Homo sapiens: one gene and its partners. The protein of the gene in region 2 interacts with the protein of the main gene of each other region in a pairwise test. Each region holds a gene or a part of one and is shown on either strand. Other genes may lie near its edges.

What was found. Proteins that work in one complex are often made in the same cells at the same time.
Region 1: the proteins of AGR2 (region 2) and GTPBP3 interact in binary tests that used the Homo sapiens proteins (3 or more experiments, as listed by UniProt).
Region 3: the proteins of AGR2 (region 2) and POGZ interact in binary tests that used the Homo sapiens proteins (3 or more experiments, as listed by UniProt).

Annotation. Positions count from the first base shown.
Region 1 is NC_000019.10:17,333,183-17,340,570, forward strand, and holds the start of GTPBP3 (5-taurinomethyluridine-[tRNA] synthase subunit GTPB3, mitochondrial), read left to right. Parts: upstream 1-4,370; 5' UTR 4,371-4,429; coding exon 4,430-4,482; intron 4,483-4,825; coding exon 4,826-5,073; intron 5,074-5,182; coding exon 5,183-5,269; intron 5,270-5,356; coding exon 5,357-5,559; intron 5,560-5,771; coding exon 5,772-5,844; coding exon of another isoform or gene 5,845-5,940; coding exon 5,941-6,084; intron 6,085-6,251; coding exon 6,252-6,417; intron 6,418-7,388. Other genes in the region: ANO8 (anoctamin-8), read right to left, coding at 1-57, 240-372, 508-618, 1,383-1,488. UniProt on the Homo sapiens protein: GTPase component of the GTPBP3-MTO1 complex that catalyzes the 5-taurinomethyluridine (taum(5)U) modification at the 34th wobble position (U34) of mitochondrial tRNAs (mt-tRNAs), which plays a role in mt-tRNA decoding and mitochondrial translation.
Region 2 is NC_000007.14:16,791,280-16,795,001, forward strand, and holds the end of AGR2 (anterior gradient protein 2 homolog precursor), read right to left. Parts: coding exon 3,657-3,722; intron 1,679-3,656; coding exon 1,629-1,678; 3' UTR 532-1,628; downstream 1-531. UniProt on the Homo sapiens protein: Required for MUC2 post-transcriptional synthesis and secretion. May play a role in the production of mucus by intestinal cells. Proto-oncogene that may play a role in cell migration, cell differentiation and cell growth. Promotes cell adhesion.
Region 3 is NC_000001.11:151,407,477-151,414,509, forward strand, and holds part of POGZ (pogo transposable element with ZNF domain), read right to left. Parts: intron 4,921-7,033; coding exon 4,820-4,920; intron 4,296-4,819; coding exon 4,149-4,295; intron 1,353-4,148; coding exon 1,218-1,352; intron 1,106-1,217; coding exon 933-1,105; intron 765-932; coding exon 624-764; intron 1-623. UniProt on the Homo sapiens protein: Plays a role in mitotic cell cycle progression and is involved in kinetochore assembly and mitotic sister chromatid cohesion.

The DNA.
Region 1 (7,388 bases), on a different chromosome or scaffold from region 2:
CCAAACTCGGCCTTCACTGCTTTGCGCAGACCCAGCTCGTCGGCCCCTCGGAGTAGGCTGTGAAGAAGGCGGAGGAGGTGGGCTCACAGGGAGGCCCCGGCCCACCATCCTGGAGCTGAGGATGGTGCACCTGGCAGCCTTTGGGACAAACGCAGGGCGGCTGGATAGCATGGTTGGCACTTGGTAGAGCGGGGAGTCGGGTGGCAGGCTCAGCGAGAGGCCAGGGACAGGGGACTCGCCTCTCATACGTGGCGGTGACAAAGAAGGCGTAGGCACGCGTGTGGCGGTGGTGGCGGACTTGCACGATGAGCTCGGGAATGCCCACGCGGATGTGGTTCAGCAGCCATAGCAGCGTGTGGTCATCGGTCGTGTCTGCCAAGGGGCACAGGGACCGATGGCTCCTGCCACGAGGGGGCCCAAGGCCTCCTACGTATTCCCGTTCTGGGAAGCCGAGCTCAGGAGAGCCGCATCTGGGCACTGGGCGGGCGGGCGGGCGGGCTTGGGTACCTGGGAAGGTCATCAGCACGTCGCAGTTCTCTGTAGGCACCGTCTTCATCCACGCCTTGTGGGACACCAGGTAGCGACCAGCCTGCAGGAGCCGCTTTCCGAAAAGCTTATCTAGGGGGCGGCGTAGCAGGCCCGGGTCAGGCCACTCTGGGATCCGGACCCGGCCTCCAGTCTTGGCTCCTCCTGCCCCCGCCAGGGCTCCTCACCACTCCACCTGGCATTCAAGGCCCCGGGAGCTCTGGGCTTGGCTTATTTTCCTCCCTCCACGTCCTTGTACCAGCCAGGCCTTCCTCCAGAAATGCCCTTCCCCCCAGATCCTCCCTTACAAATCTTACTCATTCTTGAGGCCCAGCTCCGCCTCCAAAACCACAATCGATGGGGCGCTCACTAGCAGCCCTGAGCGCTTCACCACATTATGACAGCGCCGTCCTTGCAGCAGCCCCAGGGACTAGGTGCGGTTCTTACCCCCATTTCACAGGTGAGGAAACTGAGGCCCAGAGCGTTTAAGTCACGCGCCCAAGGTCACACAGTCAAGCTGGGATTTGAACCCAGGACCGTATGATTCTGTATTCTTCGCGGAGAGGCTCTCTCAAGCACATCCCTGGCCCGCCGCGATCCCGCAGCCCGGGGGTGGCAGGGCGCAGCCCAAGCCTGGGGCTCTCGGAGGGGCGTGTCCGCGTCTCCGCGCCGGGACCCCAGCCCGAAGCACCGTCCCAGCCCCGCCCGCCGGGCCGCAGCCGCAGTGCCGGGAGGAGCCGGCCCCTCGTCCAGACACCACGCCAGGTTACGTTTGACCCTGATCCTCCTCCCCGTGTAGTTGACGCGGGCTCCCCAGGCACCTGCAACCCTGTCTGGTCCAGCCGCCGCACACATACCCAGAACTCCGGACGCCGGGGCTGCAGGCTCGCCCTCCGGCGGGGGCCTCTTGCCACGCTCGCCCTCCAGGGACGTGCCCCCGGCGCCGGAGGCGGCCTCGGCCATGGCGAGGACAGGTCAGGTCAGGGGCTACGGACGGCCCGGGCGACGGGGAGCCGCGGGCTCATGGGGCCGGTGCAGCCGCGGAGCGCGCGGGAGGAGGAGACAAAGGCCGCGCCCGCCCGCGCCGGCCTCGGTCCTCGCTCGCCCGAGCGCTGCTTCTCGTCCCCGCCCGAGCCGAACCTCGATTCTCCTTCCCGGCCCGATGCACGTCACTCTAGGGTTCTCAGCTGAGTTCGCCCGCCTAGTTCTTTGGTTCGCGTCTCCGCCCGTGTTGTTTTCTGGGTTTCCTTCTCGCCCGCCTACCTCGCTCCCTGCTGCTGGTCCCCGCCCGCACTGATGGTGCATTCTCCAACTTGTCCCCACCCATGCTTTCTTCTGGTCCCCGCCTCGGAGCCTCAGTTTCCCCATCTGCAAACTCCGGACCCTGGAGACGCTGTTTGGAATGTGAGATGGGCGTAAGTTGACTAAGGGAGGACGTGGGAGGGGCGGGCCGGTTGGGGAAGATTCCTGGTGACAATAACTTCAACCACCCCAGTAGGGCTGTGATACATAATTACAGCAAGCCCTGCTTAGGAACTTTGCACGCACCATTTGGCTGCCTAGAACACTCCTCATGCACTCTTCGTCCGGTTAACACCGACTCCCTTCAGGATGTAACCTCGGAGAGGATCCCATAGAGTTGTCAAGTTTAGCAAATAAAAATACAGTCCGTCTAGTTAAATGTAAATTTCAGATAAAAGAATAAATGTTAGCTGGGCGGGGCGCACCTGTAATCCCAGCTACTTGGGAGGCTGAGGCAGGAGAATCGCTTGTGCTCAGGAGGTCAAGGCTGCAGTGAGCTGAGATCACACCCACTGCACTGCATCCTGGGCGACAGAACGAGACCCTGTCTCAAATACATATATATACATACATACATAAATGTTTCTATGTCCTATGTCTACATGGGACATACTAGTACTAAAAAATTATTCATTGTTTATTTGAAATTCACATTTAGCTGGGCGACCTGGGTTTTACCTGGCATTTGGCCAACCCCTGACTATTCTGAGTAGCTCAGTCTGTTAGACTGAAAGCCCAGCGAGGGTAGGAACGAGGGGCCAGGTCTGGTTCTCAATGCGAGCACACAGTAGGCGCTTGCTGTACGCTTGTTACAGATGTAACAACTAGCTTGTTACAGATGTAATAACTAGCTTGTTACAGATGTAACAACTAGAGAATGGCAGATGAAATATAAATATGTCATCATTTGTTCCTATTTTACAACTTAAAATATTAAAGCCTCGGCCGGGCGCAGTGGCTCACGCCTGTAATCCCAGCATTTTGGGAGGCCAAGGCGGGTAGATCACCTGAGGCAAGGAGTTCGAGACCAGCCTGACCAACATGGCCAAACCCTGTCTCTATTAAAAATACAAAAAATTAGCCAGGCATGGTGGCGCACGCCTGTAGTCCCAGCTACTTGGGAGTCTGAGGCAGGAGAATCGCTTGAACCTGGGAGGCGGAGGTTGCAGTGAGTCTAGATCGCGCCACTGAACTCCAGCCTGGGCGACAGAGCGAGACCCCGTCTCAAAAAAAAAAAAAAAAAAAAAAAAAAGCTTGGGCAACGTAGTGAGATCCCCGTCTCCACCAAAAAAACGAAAACAAAACAAACAAACAAAAACAACAAACAAAAAGAAACACCGAAAAGTTAGACTGGCATGGTGGCTCGCGCCTGTGGTTCCAGCTACTCAGGAGGCTGAGGCGGGCGGATCCCTTGAGCCCAAAAGTTGGAGGTTGCAAGAGCCGTGATCGCGCCACTGCACTCCAGCCTGGGCGACAGAGTGAGACCCTGTCTCAAAAATAAAATAAAATAAAATAATAAAGTAAATAAAAATATTGAGCAGGGCGAGGTAAGGGGGTATTAGAACTCTATTCTGTCAGACAGATTTTTCTTAACACGCAAGTGCGCCGCCCGCCCGCTCTGATCCAGAACCAGAGAATCCGCCATGCGAAGGCGCTCCCGGAGACCCCGCCCAGCCAGTGCCTGGAATTCCACCATCAGCGCTTTATTCCGAGTTTCAGTGCTGTCCTGGGTTAACCTGAAAGCAATCTCCGAGGCTCCCCTTTCTGGCTTTCGGGGAGCCAGAGACTGACCGGACACTTGGCTCTGCAGGTGCAGACCTGGACCAGAGAGACAGAGAGCCAAGGAAGTCCACAGTGGAGAGAGGGCTGTGCTGGGGGTTCCAGGAAGACTTCCTGGAGGAGGGGATCTTGGAGCTAGGCCTTGAAGACGAGTTTGTCAAATGAGGAAGGGCATCCGAAGCCGAGGGAACGGCAGAAGGGAACGCTGGGGAGGGGAGAGAATCTGGAGAGTTCCGGAAAAAGCAAGTAGGACTCTTTCCAGAAGTTCGGGCAAGATTTTCCCTGGATCAGGGCGTGGGTTCTCCAGTACTCGTCCCTCCCGGTCACCGAGATGCTCTGAGTTTCCGGTCTGAACCTGAACGTAAAGAGGTGTAGTCCCTCCTTTCTTGAACGGGAAAACTGAACGCACATAGGTCCTTGCCACGCCTAAGGCTGCGGAGTGAGCAGATGGAAAATGCGGGACTCAAAACCTCCCCTCGCTGTAATTTGCACTGCCCTGTGCCAAACTCTGTCCTTTCTTCCATTCCTTATTCCTATTGTCAGCCTCGCTGCGCTAGGACCCTAAAAATTTGGTCTCATGTTGCCCGGGGAACAACATTTCGCTACACCTACCTCCATACCGCCTCCCGCTCCCGCTCTCCCTTGCACCAGCCAATGGAAGCGAGTATCTTCAGACGGTGGGCAGGACGTATCCTAAGATACCCAATGGTGGTCGAGAATAGTTGAGCACTTTACTAGTCAAGCCGCGGAGTGGGCGGGGCCCCCTGCCCAGACTTGAAGCCACACAGGCAGGTCGGGCAGGCGGGTCGCAGGTTGTAAATCCATGTGGCGGGGGCTTTGGACCCTGGCGGCCCAAGCGGCACGTGGGCCTCGCAGGTGGGGCTACAGGGGAAGGGGTGCGACAGCTTGGGGTGCTGCTTGGACCCCAGACCCACTCCCTGGGTTTTAGGGGCCCAATTCCCTGCGGCAGAGCAATCATTCGCGTTCTTCCGTGCCTCAATCGTTCATGACCCTTGCGGCAGAGCCCATATCTGGGTCTCCTTCTGGCCTCACAGTCCCTAATCCGGTCACCCTTCGGCCTTCAGAACATCCAATTTGTGCATCCCCCAGCCGCAGAACCCCCCCACCTGGAGCATCTCGCGATCATCGAGCCCTCGGTCTACTTGACACTGAGGCTGAGCCTCCCAGGTGCGCTGATTCGCCTCCCCTCCGGTTCCAGATTGTGCACGCGCCGGAGCAGCGGCGCACCAGCCCCCGGCTCCGGCGCCACCATCTTCGCGCTAAGCTCTGGCCAAGGCCGCTGCGGCATCGCAGTGATCCGGACCAGCGGCCCCGCCAGCGGCCACGCCCTCCGAATTCTCACAGCACCCCGAGACCTGCCCCTTGCTCGCCACGCCAGCCTGCGCCTGCTCAGCGATCCCCGCTCCGGGGAGCCTCTGGACCGCGCACTGGTGCTCTGGTTCCCAGGTGAGGGTCCCCAGGTTCCGAGCCTCCTGTAGGTCCCATGACTCAGTTTCCCCCTTCCAAGGGTTTGCACTGGCTGTGCTGTCCTCCTGTCACCTGTCTGTCACATTAGGTCCCCAGAGTTTCACCGGTGAGGACTGCGTGGAGTTCCACGTGCATGGAGGCCCGGCAGTGGTGAGCGGCGTCCTGCAGGCCTTGGGTGAGTTGCAGCGTTGGGTGAGATGCTTGGTCCTCCCAATGGGCCTGGGTGGGGACCAGGGGGTGTCAGACTGGGACCTTCCTGCAGGCAGCGTGCCAGGGCTTCGACCGGCGGAGGCAGGCGAGTTCACCAGACGGGCGTTCGCCAATGGGAAGCTGAACCTGACCGAAGTGGAGGGGCTGGCGGACCTTATCCACGCGGAAACAGAGGCGCAGCGGCGGCAGGCCCTCAGGCAGCTGGACGGAGAGCTGGGCCACCTCTGCCGTGGCTGGGCCGAGACCCTCACCAAAGCAAGTCCCCCATTTGTCCATTCTCTCCCTCAGAGACCCCATCTGTGCAACCCCTGCATGAGACCCCCTCTCAATCCCGCATTCATTCCCTGCGTGAAAGCTTCCGGCCTATGAGCCGCCATTCTGGCCCCTGAAGTCGGGCTGGACAAATTGGGTGTGGGAAGGTGGGTTTCTGGGTGCACACACCACCTCTGCTCTCCCTGCCCCGCCAGGCTCTGGCCCACGTGGAGGCCTATATCGATTTCGGCGAGGATGACAACCTGGAGGAGGGGGTCCTGGAGCAAGGTGGGTCTACCTGGTGGTGGGGGAGGAAGACACCTCATATCAGCCCTCAAAGGCTCCCCTCACTGTCTCTCTCTGCCTGCCTTCTCTCACCCACAGCCGACATCGAAGTACGGGCACTGCAGGTGGCCCTGGGTGCACATCTACGAGATGCCAGGCGCGGGCAGAGGCTCCGCTCAGGGGTGCACGTAGTGGTCACTGGACCCCCCAATGCGGGCAAGAGCAGCCTAGTGAACCTGCTCAGTGAGTAGGCGGCGGGAAGGGGGCGGGGCCTAGTGCCAGGGGCGGGGCCAAGAGCTGGGTTATTGAGTTAGTTGTTCAGGTCTAAAGCTCCCTCCAGACATGGGGTAGAACCTGGGGGAGGAGCTCCCTTGTCTCCACCCTCTCCTCTTCTTCTGACCCTCCCCCAGGTCGGAAGCCTGTGTCCATCGTGTCCCCGGAGCCAGGGACCACCCGTGACGTGCTGGAGACCCCAGTCGACCTGGCCGGATTTCCTGTGCTGCTGAGCGACACGGCTGGGTTGCGGGAGGGCGTGGGGCCCGTGGAGCAGGAGGGCGTGCGGCGCGCCCGGGAGAGGTGGGCGGACAGGGTGGTGATGGGAGGGGAACGCGGGGCCCTTTCTCTGCCTTTTCTCCCTGTTGCGTTTATTTTTCATTCTTCCTGAATCAGAGAACCTGCTAAGCCCTATCAAGCATGGATCTCAGGGATTTGGTTCTTTTTTTTTTTTTTTTTTTTTACTCCGAGACCGAGTCTTGCTCTGTCGCCCAGGCTGGAGTGCAGTGGCGGTATCTCAGCTCACTGCAAGCTCTGTCTTCCGGGTTCAAGCAAGTCTCCTGCCTCAGCCTCCCAAGTAGCTGGGATTACAGGCGGGAGCGACCACGCCGAACTATTTTTTTTTTTTTTTTGTATTTTTAGTAGAGATGAGGTTTCACTATGTTGGCCAGGTTGGTCTCTAACTCCTGAGCCTCGGCCTCCCAAAGTGTTGTGAGCCCACCGCACCTGGCCTGGTGTTTTGTTTTTGTTTTTGAGACGGAGTTTCGCTCTTGTTGCCCAGGCTGGAGTGTGCAGTGGTACAATCTCGGCTCACTGCAACCTCCGCCTCTCGGGTTCAAGTGATTCTTCTGCCTGGGCCTCCCGAGTAGCTGGGATTAGAGGCGCCCACCACAATGCCAGGCTAATTTTTTGTATTTTTAGTAGAGATGGGGGTTTCACCATGTTGGCCAGGCTGGTCTCGAACTCCTGATCTCAGGTGACCCGCCTGCCTCGGCCTCCCAAAGTGCTGGGATTACAGGCGTTAGCCACTGTGCCCGGCCAGTGATTTAGTTCTGATTAAGTCCTGCCCCCGGCCCTCCGGACATGTTTCTCATCCCTAAGCCCTCCGCCCAGCCCTCACGTTCTGCCCCGCCCTCTCGTGCTCTGTCCCGCCCTGGCACTCCGCTCTGCCCCTTGCGGTCTATCCCATCCCCTGTGCTCTGTCCACCCCCTACATTCTGCCCCACCCCTGGTGCTCTCTACCCCTTACCCTGTGGTGTGTCTGGTCCTTCTTG
Region 2 (3,722 bases):
AGTGGTGGAGGAGACTGATGGGACAAAGTCAATTAATGACTCATGCTTTGTGTTTCTTCAATGCTTTTAAAAGGGGGACTTATTTTCCTTACAGCTGTAACATTTGATTTCCTAAATATTTATTTATATTTAAAAAGTATTTGTATGTGTTAAGATATTTTGCCATTCAATACATTTTAAGAAGTTAACCTTATTTCACGTCCGCCCAATGAAAAAATATTTTGCTATACTATAGGAGAAACTTGAATCACTTAGAACTTGTCATTTAAAATATTTGTTTATGGAAGGGAAACCTCTTTTTCCTCTTGTTATCCCTCAGAGATCTTTTTAAATGGAATGTTTTACCTTTTTCAGCACATGTAAGTTATCTACTTGTGAGAAGGGAGCTGATTAACCTGTGATATTTTTGCTGAAGATTTGTATGTCATTAAATCAGCAGTATATGCTCAACACCTACTAATGATAGTAGTCACTAGGAGAGATAGAAAAGATTGAAAATATATCCCTGGAAAAATTAATAATGCCAAAAGATCTGTTCAAAAAAGGTTTTATCCAAAAAAGTTAATCAAGACAAGCAACAGATACTGCAAAGCATTATATACAGCACCATAGTCCAGGGGCCAAAGAAATCAGGAGGGGCTGGGCAGTAGAGGAATTCCATATATTAATGAATGTGAGATTAAGTATAGAGTGAAGACATTAACACACAATTCTAATTTCTGTTAGGCAGAATGCTCCCCTACCCTGATGCCACAGCCTTTCACGTTTCCTAAACCCTAGTAACCTCTGATCTCCATCTGCCTCATCAACACGTCACCACCCTTTGCTCTTCTTCCAATTAGTCACATGTTGGCTGAATTTATTTCACTCCAGTACTTTAGGACCTTGACAGACAAATCGATTACAAGGTCAATTCCCAGGATTTCTTCAGGGTGTGTTCAGGAGTGCAGATGTTCTTTGGATGACCTTTCTACTAAATTAGACCTCTGAAGGAGAAAGCTACTTGCCAGAGGCTTTCCCTGAGAGCATTAGGTTGGGCAAAATCTGACTAAAATTTAATTACTAAATGAAAGTGTGTACCTTAGAGTTCCTGGCCAGAGTTGACTCTAGGTAGTGATGTGATTTTCTTGGGATGTTTTTCTAAATATTCTTTTATGCTAAAGCACATGGCTTGATACTTCTGTTGATTAAGCTCGTGTCTACTTACAGTCATCTAGTGAGAACCTGTGGTGTGGTGAGATGATAACTTGGTCTTTGGTCTTCATCATTTGAACTAGTTTTGGTTTTGTCTTGTCCCTTCCTTGAGCATTTTGTGTGTGTTTAATCCTATTTGGTAAACGAACCACTGTGAAAGACCAAGTTGGAGAAAACAGAACACCCCCAAAACATTTATTTTTTTTTTTAGAAAATCATGGCTCACTATGGTAGTATACAATATTGTTTTCACACATGTACACTTGAAACCAAATTTCTAAAACTTGTTTTTCTTAAAAAATAGTTGTTGTAACATTAAACCATAACCTAATCAGTGTGTTCACTATGCTTCCACACTAGCCAGTCTTCTCACACTTCTTCTGGTTTCAAGTCTCAAGGCCTGACAGACAGAAGGGCTTGGAGATTTTTTTTCTTTACAATTCAGTCTTCAGCAACTTGAGAGCTTTCTTCATGTTGTCAAGCACTAATGGGGGATAAAAGCAGGAGAGTCAAGACACCATCGTGCGTTATATCGATATAATAAACCCCAAACTTGGATGCTCAATTCATTATTTAATGGGATGCTTTTTTTTTTGAGACAAGGTCTCACTCCCACTCAGGCTGGCATGCAGTGGTGCAATCTCCACTCAGTGCAACCTCTGCCTCCTGGGTTCAAGTGATTCTTCAGCCTTAGCCTCCTGAGTAGCTGGGATTAGAGGTGTGCTCCACCATGCCCAGCTAATTTTTGTATTTTTGGGAGAGATGGGGTTTTGGTATGCTGGCCAGGCTGGTCTCGAACTCCTGAGCTCAAGTGATCCACACACCTCGGCCTCCCAAAGTGCTGGGATTACAGGCGTGAGCCACTGTGCCCAGCCTGATAGGATGCTTTTTATCATGAGGTGAATAGTTGGTAATCTTATTGTAATTTAAAAAAATTATATGAAATGGCTTTTGTGACAATCTAGTTTTCTAGTGTAGTCATTCCTTCCCAGATCCTTCATCTCCAACCCTCACTTCCAAAAGAATCCTTTTATAAGCTCTAGCAGCAGAAGATAATTTTGGCTCATTTAGAAGTAAATTTAAATCATGTTTAAAAGAAATGTCTATTAGTAGGTGTGTGTAAATTGTTTTAGAAGTAGGGGAAATATAAATAATAGCAAACCAAGTGCTTTATGCAGATGAATTCTTTAATCCTCATACAAACACGATTAGAACTTTATATATACATAATGAAACAGGCAGAGAGAGGCTGAGTAGCTTGCTCAAGGTCACACAGCTAACAAGTAATGGAGCTACTGTTCCAGAGCCCAAACTCTGGGTCACTGTTTCTTCAACAGCAATTCATCAAAATGAGGTATGTGATCTACTAAAAATAAGATGTCCACTCGATAGGCATTGAACAGCCGCTTATTCACTCTTCCTACAAATCTTAATTATTAAGTGCCTGTTCTACAAGGGATTGTGATATTACTTGTGTAGGACACGTGCCTTTTAAGAGCTTAGTCTTATTAAAATGTATGGTATTATCTCAGTAATGGCTGACAGTACTTGGAATGTGCTTCCCCTGGTCCAGCACACACTGGAAACATTGCTAATGGACCATGATGATCTCTCCTGCTTCCTAGACACGGCCTCACTTCTCTTCCCAACATGACGTTCTAAGTCAGCACTGGCCAATAGAAATTTCTGTGATGATGGAAATGTTCAGTGTCCGGGCATTGAGCACTTGGAATATGGCTAGTGTGACTGAAGGAATGAATTTCTAACTTTAACTTAAGTAGCAACATGTGGCAAATGGTTAACATATTGGACAGTGCAGTTCTAGGCAGCCACTACTAATTGATCAGAGTTGGTTCCTAGGATAAAACCCACTTTTCTTCCCAGAGGACTAATCAGATGTCACAGCTAGCTACAGCGTTGCATTGAGGTACCTCATCTGCCTTAAGTCAGTGTCTCTCTCTCTCTCTGTCTCTCTTCCATTGATGGCAACCATAGGGAAGGTAATTTTCTTGGCAATCATTTGGATCATCTTTGAAACTGATCTTTAAACTGAACCTGAATTTAATTTTAAGCTGGACTGCACATTCTTTCACTTTTGTTATTTAAAAAATTAAGACATGCAGATTATTACAATTATTACACTCAGTTCTGTGATAGAAGGAGTGTGTGCTCGTGTACCTAACAGAAAACCTGAAAATCAGGTAATGTGGTCATAGAATCCTCCTAGAGAAAAAGATACCTAATCTAAATAATTCATCTTCAATTGAGATTAAAAACAAACAAACCTGAGATGGAAAGAGTGTGATTTGCCTGAAGATGCAAGGCTAGTTAGGGTCAAACTGAGTCCGAGGCGTCCCTAAGCCTAGCTCTCTCTCACCTCACCATGCAGCCTCTAGTCCCATCACTACAGCAATAGAGGTGTTCAACTCTTGGGCAACATCCGAATTGAAGGTCACACTTACACAGAGCTGTATCTGCAGGTTCGTAAGCATAGAGACGATTTGAATATCTTCCAGTGATATCGGCTC
Region 3 (7,033 bases), on a different chromosome or scaffold from region 2:
TTAAAATTCACATTCTGGTTCAGTAGGCCTAGGGCGGGGCTGAGAGTCAGCATTTCTAACAAGCTCCCACCTAATACTACTGGTACTTGAATAGCAAGGCCCTATGAAATTAGAGCACAGACCATCAAAACCGAAAAAACAGAGCCTCTCACTCTGCTAGGAGAGAAGAACAAATAGCTCTAAGAGTTGAAGGAGGAAACATATTAGAAGCAGGGGAGAAAATGAAATGAGTGCTCAAGAATCTGGCTGGGGCCGGGCGCAGTGGCTCATGTCTGTAATCCCAGCACTTTAGGGAGGCCGAGGCAGGTGGATCACCTGAGCTCAGGAGTTTGAGACCAGCCTGGCCAACAAGGTGAAACCCCGTCTCTACTAAAAATACAAAAAAATCAGCCAGGCATGGTGGTGCACACCTATAATCCCAGCTACTTGGGAGGCTGAGACAGGAGAATCACTTGAACCCAGGAGGCAGAGGTTGCAGTGAGCCAAGATCATGCTATTGCACTCCAGCCTAGGGGACAGAGTGAGACCCTGTCTTCAAAAAAAAAAAAAAAAAAAGAAGAAGAAGAAGAAGAAAAAAAGAATCTGAACTCTCAAGCTAAAACACTGGTTAAAAACCAACTTACTTGATCATGTGGTTGGCATAAGCTCGAGAACAGCAGGTGCTATAGCGACACAGAGAGCAGTGTACGTAAGTAGGGAAATGATTAGGGAAGTCTGGGATCTCGAAGCTGCACTCCAGGCATGTCTGCCGGCCCATGACACTCCTGTGGGGGAAAAAAAAAAAGAATTCTCATTACTGCCTCATGGGTCCCCAAAATGTAGGATTTTCAGACAACAAACCCTGCTAAAAAGCTACCAGATTGCACTGTGTATCAGGAATAATCCTGGCCACCCAGTCCCCACCCGCCCAGCACTTAGAAGAAGGCGCTGACATTTTCCTAACAGCTCTCTTCTGGATGCTGCGCTGGACAGGGGGATAAAGGAAGACAGGCAGAGGGTCCATTGAGGAGGTCAGCGGTGCTGCCTCCTGCAAGGCGCTGGGAGGTGTATCATTAGAGGATACAGGAACAGTTCGTGGCTGCCCTCGGGAAGCCCGGATTGTCACCTGAGAACCAAGGGAAGTAACAATGAGACATCACCCACACTAAATTTCAGAATACTGAAAATCTCTATTCCTCCCTCCCTGGGCCTATAAAAGACACTGGCAAACTCTTTACCTTGGTGCCTGGTTTCAAGCCCTCCAGCTGCTTGGGTTTACGGAAGGTTTTATGGTGTTGAAGCTTGTGTTCAATTTTGTCCTTGGCAAAGAGAAACTGCAGCCGGCATTTGTTGCAGTGATAAACATTTCTCTTCTGAAGTGGGGGAGGGAAAAAAAGAGACAAAATCCCTTAAAGGTTCCTAATAAATTTTCTTTTTTGAGGAGAAAGCAGATCAATGTCAACCATATCATTCTTCCCACCTTTCTGTTGATAATTTAAGAGAGTAAGAAAGAAATATGCAACATGACCACAAAACCTACCATTGAGAATCATCACCTCCCATGATATCAAAGAAAGATGGATTCTAGTCCAGGATGACTAAGTTCTCAAATCATCCTTTCCTGACTTGTTTTAACAATTTGAATGAGTGATGTAACCTTTATTTGTATTATATCTTTACACTGCTGACAACTGGACATTCTTCTGGACATTCTTCATTCTTCTTTTTTTAAAAAAGGACAATGTACATAGTAAACTAAAGTCATACTTTTTTTTCTATACTCTTCCAACTTTGCTTTCAACTCCAACACTCAGTCCCCTTCCATACAAACAACTTATTACCAGTTTCCTGAGTATGCTTTCGTGGGCAGTCTACACATATAACTGTATCACAAATACATTCATATCCAATCATTACCTGCCTCGCCCCCTTTTTTTGAGACAGGGTCTCTCTCTGTAGCCCAGGCTGGAGTGCAGTGGCATGTTCATAGCTCACTGCACGTCCCAAGTAGCTGGGACTACAGGCACGTGCCACCACGCCCGGCTACTTTTTGTATTTTTTTGTAGAGACGGGGTGTCACCATGTTGCCCAGGCTGGTCTTCAACTCCTGGGTTCAAGTGATCTACCTGCCTTGGCCTCCCAAAGTGTTGGGATTACAGGCGTGCATCACTGTGCCTGGCCCTTACTTTTTTCCCTTTCCTTTTTGTAGAGATGTTGTCTCACCATGTTGCCCAGGCTGGACTCCACCTCCTGGGCTCAAGTGATCCTCCCACCTCAGCCCTCTTCTTTTTCTCCTTTTAACACAAATGATAGCACTTGTCTATACCTTGCTGTTTTCTCACTTAACACATCAGTATATACAGATATGTCTCCTGGTGAGACCACTTTGAGGATTCAGTCTGCCTAGTATTGAAGTCCTTCAAAAATAGAACCCATGTCTATGATTTTCTTTAGTAGGATAACAAAGCTCTGTAAGCTTAGGCTAAGAGACAATTTCCATGCCCCTATTTGGAAATACAGTTGTGGTAGACAATCAGCAGTCACTACTGTGCAAAGGAGACTATGAGTGTAATAGGGTACATATGTTTGTGTGCATATGTATGTGACTATTAAGCACACATGCACTCATCTTATTCTCCATTTTGAATCCTCTCTTATATACTATATACCTTTCACTCTCCTCTAGTGGCTCTCTTCTTGTAGTATTTTAAAACGAAGTCATAGCTTTTCATCTTATAAGGAAAATAAAAGCAATAAAAAACTCTTCTTTGCCACTTCTTCCTCTGGATTTACCTACCCTGGGTCCTCCCTTTTTATAAATAAACTTCTTTAAATACATCGTCTTCATTTCCTTACCTCTCATTCATTTGTTCTGCTGAAATGTGACTTCCACCCTACCAACCAACAAAATGGCTCTCATCAATGTTGCTAAATTAAAGGCCTGTTTCTAAGTCTCTATGTTGCTTGACACCTTCCTGTAACATATGACATTTTGATCACACCCTTTTCTTTAAAACACTTTCTTCTCCCCAGTTTCCTTAAGGTTAAGACTCTTCTGGTTTTCCTCCTAGTACTATGGTGGTTGCTTTATAGATAAGGGACTTCAAATATCCTAAGCCTTCTCTTATTCTCAACAGGGTTGGGGGGCCCATGGTATTTAAGTTTAAAATCTATAGGATTTATATAACGCTGATTCCTAAATCTTTTCTACAACCCAGAGTTCTCTCACAGGCTTGAGATCTATTATCCAACAGCTACACTTGACATCCACAGATACTGCTAACTTACAATATCCAAGCTCATGATCTCCCCCCTCACAAATATACTTTCTCTATTGTTTCTATTTCAGCAAATAGTTCCCTCATTCACCCAACTGCCCAAGACAGAATCTTAGGCACTATTCTTAACTACTGCATTGCTACCTTCACCTAATCCATCTCTACATCATAAATATCACAAATCTTCTGAATATCTCTCAACTCTACCCTCTTTTTATTTCAAAAGCCAATAGCCACTATCATCTCTCACCTAAACTACTGAAAAAGGCCTTCTAGCTAGTTTCCCTAACTGTAGTCTCAATCTCCTTTAATCCATTCTCTGCAGTGCAGGCAGTATAAAGCCTTAACTAAAGCTGAACACATCACTCCAGGGCTTAAAACCCCTTTAGTGGCTTCCCAGTGAATTCTTTTCATGGCTTAAAAGATCCTCCATGATCTGTCCCTGCCTAACTTCCAACCCCTCTGTCTCTTACACCCTACACTGAATCTCTCTCAATTTCTTGAACCTCCACAATTTTGCTTTGTGCCTTGGGCACACTGTTCTTCGTCTTATTTCATCTGGCTCATTCTTATTCATCCCTCAGGTATTGAACAACACTTCTTTCTGGAAGCCTTACTAGGCACCCAGAATAGCTATGTGATTTTCTATATCCTATAATTTCCCCAACACAGTACTCTTCATGTTTTATTGTATTGTTTGCCTTGTTTACTACTAAATCTCTAGCATCTAGACTAGTACATGGCACATTAAGTGAATTCAATAAATTTCTGCAAACATATGCATATTATAATCTCTGCCCAAATTATTTGCCTAGCTCAGCCCTGGCCCCAGCATCCATGTTTAAAAAAAAAAAAAACAAGAGAATATGGGAATTGCTTGGTGCCTAGTACCTGGTGCCTCATGTAATGCTGTTGGAATGCATTGCCATTTTTGAAGACCTTCAGGCAATAAGGGCAGAGCAGATGCCGGGTATCCTCATGGATCATCCGAAAATGGACATCTACCTCAGAGTAGAGTGAGGAGCGATATTGACACACCTGAGTCACATAGGAGGGAAAATAAGGCTAAGAATGAAGTGAACAACTGAGAGGCCTTAAAAAAAAAGGTAGCAACAAAAATTTTTAAATTAAAAAAAAAAAGTTTTCTCAAATGCATAGAAATCAAATTATTTTCCTGACTTTGTAATGCTGGGCTATGTTTGTGATAGGTTTAGCTATTACTTTAAAAATAGGAAGGGACAGAAAGTCTAAGAATAATCCATGTTCTCTAACTAAGAAAAATAAAGCCTTTTCTGTCAATTTCCAAAGGGCACGTTCAGGAGACAGACACTCCCTTAGAATATGCACATGTTCCCGGCTAGTCTACTTGTGGACATGTTCTTTTATGTTTTTCTCCTGCATGGAAACCCTGAAGATAAACTGTGTTTACTATTTCTTCTGTACCTACTCAGAGTTCCTAAACTGAGTGTATGCAGTAGGTGGTCAACAATATTCATTAGTAAATTCTTTGTATTCTTCCTGAGGGCAAAACTGCTAAAACTCCCTGGAGAAAAAGGCAATACCTGGCAAACATAAGGCATCTCTCCAGGCTTATGAGTATCCTTCATATGCTGGAGAAATAGTGGCTCACTTTCAAACGCCCATTCACAGATCTTGCACTTGGCTGTAAGAAGAAAAGTAATCAATAAATCCACTTGAAAATAAGACAAAAGTCCTGCTGACTCACAATCTTTATTTTCTCTGCCTCCTTTATTTTGATTTTCAACAATCAGTAAATCATAGGTCCCTTCTGTTCTTTCTTTAAATGGCTCCACCTTAACATATATGTTGCTGATAATCTTATGTACGTAGCTCAGACTTCTTACCAAAGCTTCATTCTAGATTTTATCTATAAGACATTTTAAATTGGTTATTCTATCGTCAACTCTAACCTAATTCAGCATCCTCCTGTCTTACCACTGTTTCCCTTTTTCCTTTCCCCATTTCTTCCTGAGCTCAAAATTTAGGCACTATCTCGGATTCCAAACCCTGCATTCTGTCACCATTATTTCAAACTGCATGTAGGAACTGTCACTTCTCTATACTTATAATAAGGCAAAAACTTGGTACTAGCCCATATGATTTCCCACTGCTAATCAGCTGGCCTCCAATACCTCCTACTCTCTTTGAAATTGTCCATTTTGTCAAGCTTATGAGAAAAAATTTTGACAAAATTTTATGACACAAATGAACAATTTTGTCAAACTTCTGAGACAATTTTTGGTAATTTCATGTTGGCCAGGTTGGTCTCGAACTCCTGACCTCAGGTGATCTACCTGTCCCAGCCTCCCAAAGTGCTGGGATTATAGGTGTGAGCCACCGTGCCTGGGCTTTTTTTTTTTTTTTTTTTTTTAAGAGACAGAATCTCACTGTTGCTCAGGCTGGAGCATGATCATAGCTCACCGCAGCCTCCTGAGTAGCTAGGACTATCCTTTGAGCTCAAGCGAGCCTCCTGTTTCAGCCTCCCAAGTAGCTAGGACTACAGTGGTGCACCACCATGCCCAAGTAATTAAAAAAAATTTTTTTTTGTAGGGACAGGGTCTCGCCATGTTGCCCAGGCTGGTCGGAAACTCCTGGCCTCAAGCAATCCTTTTGTCAATCCACTTCAGTCTCCCAAAGTGCTAGAATTACAGGTGTGAGCCAGTGCACCGGCCAATTTTGGTAAGACTTTTAACTGCTACATATTTTTAATTATACAGTATGGCAAAAAGAGAGAGATTATTTACATTTTTGTCACTTTAATGGAATTAGTTTCAAGTTTTTGCAAATATGAAAACTGGAAGCTTAAAGCCTTGGGCATTTACTGGACAATGTCTAACCTCCCCCCGCCCCCAGCCCCCTACACCCCAGCCAAAGAAATATGAATAAAGTTGAAATAATTCTTTTTTCTTTTTTTAACTACCGAGAACCCTGGATTTTTGTTTTGAGACAGAGTCTCGTTCTGTCTCGCACGCTAGAGCGCAGTGGCTCAATCATGGCTCACTGCAACCCTGACCTCCCAAGCTCAAGCAATCCTCCCATCTCAGCCTCCCAAAGTACCAGAATTACAGGTATGAGCCACTGTGCCTAGCCAAGTAATTTTTTAAAGTAAAACAAACAAACAAAAGCCAGGGGTTCTTAATCTGGGGTCTATGGAACAGGCCTCTAGGAATCCAGGCTTTCTCTGAAATTATTTGCAAAAGAGTAAAATGTAGATTTTTCTAGGAAGAGGATTCAAACATTTCATATTTATTCTCAAAGAGGTCTGCAACTCCATTTAGAAACACTGTCTACAGGTACATTAGGTGCTATGAGGACATGGATAAATAAGAAATTCTGCATAAAGGAATGAGGAAAAGCTATAACAACATATAAAAGCTGAATTGTCAAAGAATGGGGCTCAGCCAGCCAGAGAGAGGACCAAGAGAAAAGCAGGAGGAAAGGCAAGTAGGTATGAAAGTTAACCACATGTTTGGGAAACAGTTAACTAGCAACATAACGATATTATCTCTTTTCCACTCACCCCCCGATTTGTTTACCTCTCTCATTTTTCTCTTCTAGAACACCTTTAAGCAATATTTTGTCCAGGCCTTTCTTAGTCTATGTTTTCCCTGGGCAATCTCATTCACTCTTTCTCCTATAACCTATTTATCAGCTCTATTTTCACAGCTGTCATGCAACATCAATAATAAAAACACTTATTAAGCAATTTCTAATGTACAAGCATCAGGTTAAGATTTACATGTGTTGGCTGGGCA